Homo sapiens: one gene and its partner. The protein of the gene in region 2 interacts with the protein of the main gene of each other region in a pairwise test. Each region holds a gene or a part of one and is shown on either strand. Other genes may lie near its edges.

Region 1 (3,709 bases), on a different chromosome or scaffold from region 2:
AGCAGAAAATATGTGTGTGTATGCATGTTTGTGTATTTAACATGTAGATAAAAGTAAGAAAATACTTACTGGTTTCCAAAACCAGAAATAAATGTAAAAACAAAAAATGTATTACTTAAAGATAACCTAAAAAGTGTAAAATGATATTTCTCTTGTTGTTTGCCTAAAGGTTAACAGTTCATGTTAAAAGCAATTTTATCTTTTACATACAGAAAATGTCAGTGTACAAATGATCATGATTCATGTGTTTAAAACAAGATATCACACTCTTCCCAATCAAAAAGTTGAGAGGTTATGAAAAACCAAAAAAAATTCTATAAGTACGACAATGACAAGTGTTTAGGTGGGTATGGTATAGCATTAGTCAGGATTCAATTAACACCCAAGGAAGTAACAACACCACAGCAGAACAAAAAGGATCACCATGTGTCAACTGTTACCCCTTCCTACCCTGCTTCTGAGGTGGCAAGGAGGAAAACCTAAGTGAAGGGCTGCTAAACAGGTGAAAGGTAAAGAAGTAGAGTCAGTATAGACAACTCTTTTGAAGAATTTGGTCTTAAAGAGAAGTACAGAAATGTGGAAATAACTTGACGGAGACATAGGATTAAGGGATGGTTTTTCCCCCAGATGGGTGATGTTACAGCGTATTTTATACCAGTGGATAGATTCAGCAGACAGAAAGAACTTGATGATGCAGAAGAGAAAGGATATAACTACAGAAAAAGGACACAAGTGGAGTGGTTGGTCTTAGAAGTGCAGAAAGGCACAGGTATGGGCAGACTGGTAGATTTGATGACAGAAAGATTAAGAGGTTCTCCTTTAATTGCTTCTGTCTTCTCAATGAAATAAGAACTTAGGGCAGGGTGCGGTGACTCATGCCTGTAATCCCAGCACTTTGGGAGGCCAAGGCAGGTGGATCACCTGAGGTCAGGAGTTCAAGACCAGCCTGGCCAACATGGTGAAACACCGTCTCTACAAAAATATAAAAATTAGCCAGGCATGGTGGTGCACGCCTGTAATCTCAGCTACTCAGGAGGCTGGGGCAGAAGAATCAATTGAACCGGGAGGCGGAGGTTGCAGTGAGCTGAGATTGTGCCATTGCACTCCAGTCTGGGTGACAGAGCGGACTCCGTCTCAAAAAAAAAAAAAAAGAAATAAGAACTTAGGCCATTTGTGGATACTAGAAAAAAATCTTATTTTTTTTACTATGACTATTACATTCATTTACAATATGATGATCAAAAATTCATTTTAACAACTTGAAATTTTTGAAATGTGTGTATAATTATGTACCTGCCTTCAAGACAAGTCACCTCTGCCTGCAGAAGGTCCTCACTAGTATGGGTAAAATTCAACTGGGAGAGCACACTGTCTAAGTCCCCCTGCCCTTGAGAGGTGTACTTCTTTTCTGCCAGAGATTCTTCCCGTGGCCTATGGAAAGACATAGGATGATTGTTAACGCCTTTATCTCTGCAAACAAAAATAATGCTCATCTAGTCTGTGTTTCCCCATCATTTTTGGTAACCTCTTTGGAACTCTTCAAGTTTGTCTCCTGCTTTATAAAAAGAATATTGGGAGAGGAAAGAAAGAGTCAAGAGATGCTGATACTTCAAAAAGTAGCAATTTACTCCCTTCTTAACTGGGATTTGGCCTTTTTTCAAGGGAAAAAGACAAAATGGCAAAATCACTTCAGTGACACTTGAAACCCTGTACCAAAAAAACTGAAAAGTTACAGGAGAATTCTGGCAAAAATAAAAGTGTGCATCAGACTTAAATCAAGCAAGAGGGCTAGCCCAATGGCTGGCTGCTATTAATGATAAGCAGCTACTAATCACAACTTATTCCACCAACAAAGTGAGGCCTCCAGGAGACATGGATGACAATTCCCTGCACATTTGGATTTTCACCAAGCATGCAAACTGACCTTGGTTTCTAACTTTCTAAACATGAGAGTCTCTGTTAGGGACCCTAACTGGTGGCAGAAGAAAATTAACCACACAAAATTTTATAACACTTTAAAAACCTAACTCAGAAGTTAAAGCCAATTAAGAAAATCCACAATATGATCAAACATAAAATTATGAATATGCAATATGAAAACTAGTGCTTGGATGGGCGTGGCAGCTCACACCTGTAATCCCAGCACTTTGGGAGGCTGAGGTGGGCAGATCACCTGAGGTTAGGAATTTAAGACCGGCCTAGCCAACATGATGAATGCCCGTCTCTAAAAATACAAAAAACTAGCCAGGTGTGGTAGCATGCACCTGTAGTCCCAGCTACTTGGGAGGCTGAGCCTGGAGAATGGCTTGAACCTCGGAGGTTGAGGTTGCAGTGAGCTGAGATTGCACCACTGCACTCCAGTCTGGGCAACAGGAGACTATCTGAAAATAAAATAAAAATAAAAATAAAAATAAGCCTAGTGCTTAATACCTAGTCATTAAGTGGCTAAGATGAATAATATTTAAGATTAAATTTACCTTATAGCTTCTACAGCATGTTGAGTGTTAGTTGCCTTTACTTTTTCTTGTAACTTCTCCTTTTGTATTCTGGCCTCATGTATGAGATTTTCTTGAGACTGAAGAGCTGCCTTCAATTCTCTCTTTTCTTCCTGCAGAGCCTGCAAAAAAGTCAAATATGATTATAATTTTCCTTCTTTTTAATTCCTGCAGAACCTGCAAAATACTCAGAAATTTCTAAGCCAGCTATTATTACAATTTTTCTATTTCACGAGAAGCCAGGAAGTCAGACTATAAGTTACGTAACAATATTACAATATTGTAAATATTGTAATAAAGTCACAATATTAGTAAAACTATCAATATCTGATCCATCATTTATAAAGTAGGGAAGAAAGTATGGATTGTAGAACCTAGTTCTAGCTTAATAACACTCTCTTAAAATACTCATACACACACTTCCCCCAATTATAGTGATTTTAAAACATACCTCTAATAGTTTTTCAGATTCCCTCAATTTTTCTTCTTTTTGCTGCTGCTCCTGTAGGACAGTCATACTGGTTCCAACCAAGTCATTGACCCTCATGGTGAGGCGCTCTATTTCCAACTCATTGGCACAGATAGTGTCATTAGCCCGCTCCAGTTTACTGCTTAAGTGTTGAATTTCTGATTGGCTAGAAAGTTCCACAGACTCTAATTTCTGTTTCCGATTGACAAGCTGAGCCTAGAAACACAGACTATCAATCAATAGGTAAAAGGGAAATGATAAAATAATCAATGAATAAGACTAAAATGAAACTATTATTTCCATAAAAACATAAAGCATTGGCTCACTAAAATATATATATATATATTGCGAAGGGGTAAGAAAGAATTGAGAGGCTGGGAGTGGTGGCTCACGCCTGTAATCCTAACACTATGGGAGGCTGAGGCAGGCAGATCGCTTGAGCTCAGGAGTTCGAGATCAGCCTGGAAACATGGCGAAACCCTGTCTTTATAAAAAATACAAAAATTGGCCGGGTGCAGTGGATCACGCCTGTAATCCCGCACTTTGAGAGGCTGAGGTGGGCGGATCATGAGGTCAGGAGATTGAGACCATCCTTGCCAACATGGTGAAACCCGTCTCTACTAAAAATACAAAAATTAGCTGGGCGTGGTGGCGCGTGCCTGTAATCCCAGCTACTCGGGATCGGGAGGCTGAGGCAGGAGAATCACTTGAACCAGGGAGTTGGAGGTTGCAGTGAGCCGAGATT
Region 2 (2,189 bases):
TTCCATCCAGCATGTTTGTACTCTACATGCTTGTCCTTACAGAGGAAACGGGTTGGTTTTGACACAAATTTCCCTCTCTCCAGGAGTTGAGGAGCCAGAAACAGAAGATGGTCTCAGAAAGGGAGCGGCTCCAGGCAGAACTGGACCACTTACGAAAGTGCCTTGCCTTGCCTGCAATGCACTGGCCTAGGGGCTACCTGAAGGGATATCCCAGGTGACGGTTTCCCTTGCACTAGGCCGAACCTATAGTATAGAAATATTATCTATTTTATTACCTTGAATATTTAATATTTTTCACTGGGAGGTTTGAAGCTTACAAAATGAGAATGTGCCATGCATGAAGCAAAGGATTCCAGGCTCCAGAAAAAATGAATGAACTCACCTTGACGTCAATGCAATTGAATCACCGTTGTCATTCAGCGAGCAACCAATGTAGGATTGCCCACAGTTTTTCTTTTTAAAGGTGGTTTTCGCCCTTCCTCTCCCACATTATTTCTTAATCTGAACATGAAGGCTCCATTAGCAACACTAAAACTTGATCATTAACAGCCCCCTGTGCATATGAGTGGATCAAACCGGTTCTGTTCTTTCTTGTGTTGCCATGTTACTATGCCTCAAGCCCAGTTTGCTTTTGCCGCAGCGATGGGGCCAGTCTCATTCCTCCCCAGGAGTGAAACTTGCTTCAGCTGAAAAGGTTGGGTGCATTGTCAGTAAAAAGGGCTTATTTGTTTCATTTTACTTTCCTGCAAAATTTTCTTCAAAGCAACAAGTCCTAGGAGCACACAAAGCAACCCAAAGGCTTTTCCCTGGAAAAGCTCTTTCTTACCTAAAGATAAAACCAATTCACAAACTGAAGGTAGCTTTTTATTACTCCGTGGGGAGCATGTACAGAGCTCTGTGTATACACAGCTTCACACCCACCAGATTGTTACTACAGTGGGTTGGGTTTTCATACAGACGTAAATTTTGAGAGAAAAGTCAAAGGTGCTTCAGCCTTGTACTGTGTATATATATTAAAAAAAAAACAAAGTTTTGTATGTTTTTATTACTTTAACTATTGTTATAAAAAGCCTGCCATTTTTAATATGTGGTTTGGGGGATTTTTGTTTGTTTTTCCTGTTTGGGGGTTTTGTTTGTTGTTTTGGTTTTTTTTGGGCAAAAAAAAAAAAAAAACCTTGCTTTTAGTGTTTGTACTGCTGCTGGTCAGGACATTAAAATATTGAAGTGTTTTTAAAAATTAAAGAAGAAGAAAAGTAAAAGAGCTTACCACTGGCGCCTATGCGATCACTTCATTTTTAGTTTGAGTTGCACCAGAAGCTGCCGTAGAAAGCCATGCGCTACTGCTTACCTCCTCCACTCCCCCTGCCTGCCCCCAGCATCTGGACAAGCTAATAGCAAATATTACCCATTGCTATCAAGGGAGGAGGGGGTAGTCTGTAGAACCCATGTGTGACAGTCATGTGCACACATGGGCGGGGGCTTTTAAAAACCTTTCAGGAAGTCAATGATTTCTGTGATTGATATAATTCTAAGGTGTCTGAGAGCAGGTACAGAATAGGAACTTCAGAGGCTTTGTTTAAACGCAAAGCTTTGTAAAAGCCACAAGGTCTGAGCTGAACCCCTCCTTTTTGAACTTACTGTGACAAGCACAGGAACGGTCAGAAACTGGGCTCATCACACCAAGGCAAAGCAACGGGCGAGTCTTCCTCCTTGTCCTAGTTACTGCCTATGGAGGCAGTGTTTAGATCAAGAAGGCCTCTCTTGCTCCCAAGGGCCCTCACCAGAGGCCAGGGCTGCCAGTCACTGGTCTGGGGGGTGGAGGCCTGAGCTGAGGGCAGGGTGCCTGACCTGTGTGCCGGCTGCTCACTGCTGTGACCAGCAGCCGAGCCCTTGGCCCTAGCCCTTGCTGCGCAGAACAGCTTGCTGGCAGCTGGCATCGTGTCGCTTTATCTGCCCCCGCACAGTTTGCTTTGTACGTCTGCCAAGAATCTTCCAGTTATTAGCAAACTCAGACGAATGTACCGCCAGTATTATCAGCAGTCAACAAGCACCTTCCTCTCCACAGAAGCAGCTGGAAGAGAACTCGAGGGGCTGTGCTGCAGGCCTCCCCTCGAAAGACACTGGGAGGTCAGCATGTTCCACAGGTGTTCAGAGGGAGTCTGCTACAAACTATCAGGGCAAAATCTCAC

What was found. Proteins that work in one complex are often made in the same cells at the same time.
Region 1: the proteins of GSE1 (region 2) and CEP63 interact in a two-hybrid assay, tested with the Homo sapiens proteins (2 studies listed by BioGRID and IntAct).

What each region holds. Positions count from the first base shown.
Region 1 is NC_000003.12:134,545,057-134,548,765, reverse strand, and holds part of CEP63 (centrosomal protein of 63 kDa), read right to left. Parts: intron 3,181-3,709; coding exon 2,947-3,180; intron 2,618-2,946; coding exon 2,478-2,617; intron 1,432-2,477; coding exon 1,294-1,431; intron 1-1,293. UniProt on the Homo sapiens protein: Required for normal spindle assembly.
Region 2 is NC_000016.10:85,672,322-85,674,510, forward strand, and holds part of GSE1 (genetic suppressor element 1), read left to right. Parts: intron 1-83; coding exon 84-218; 3' UTR 219-2,189.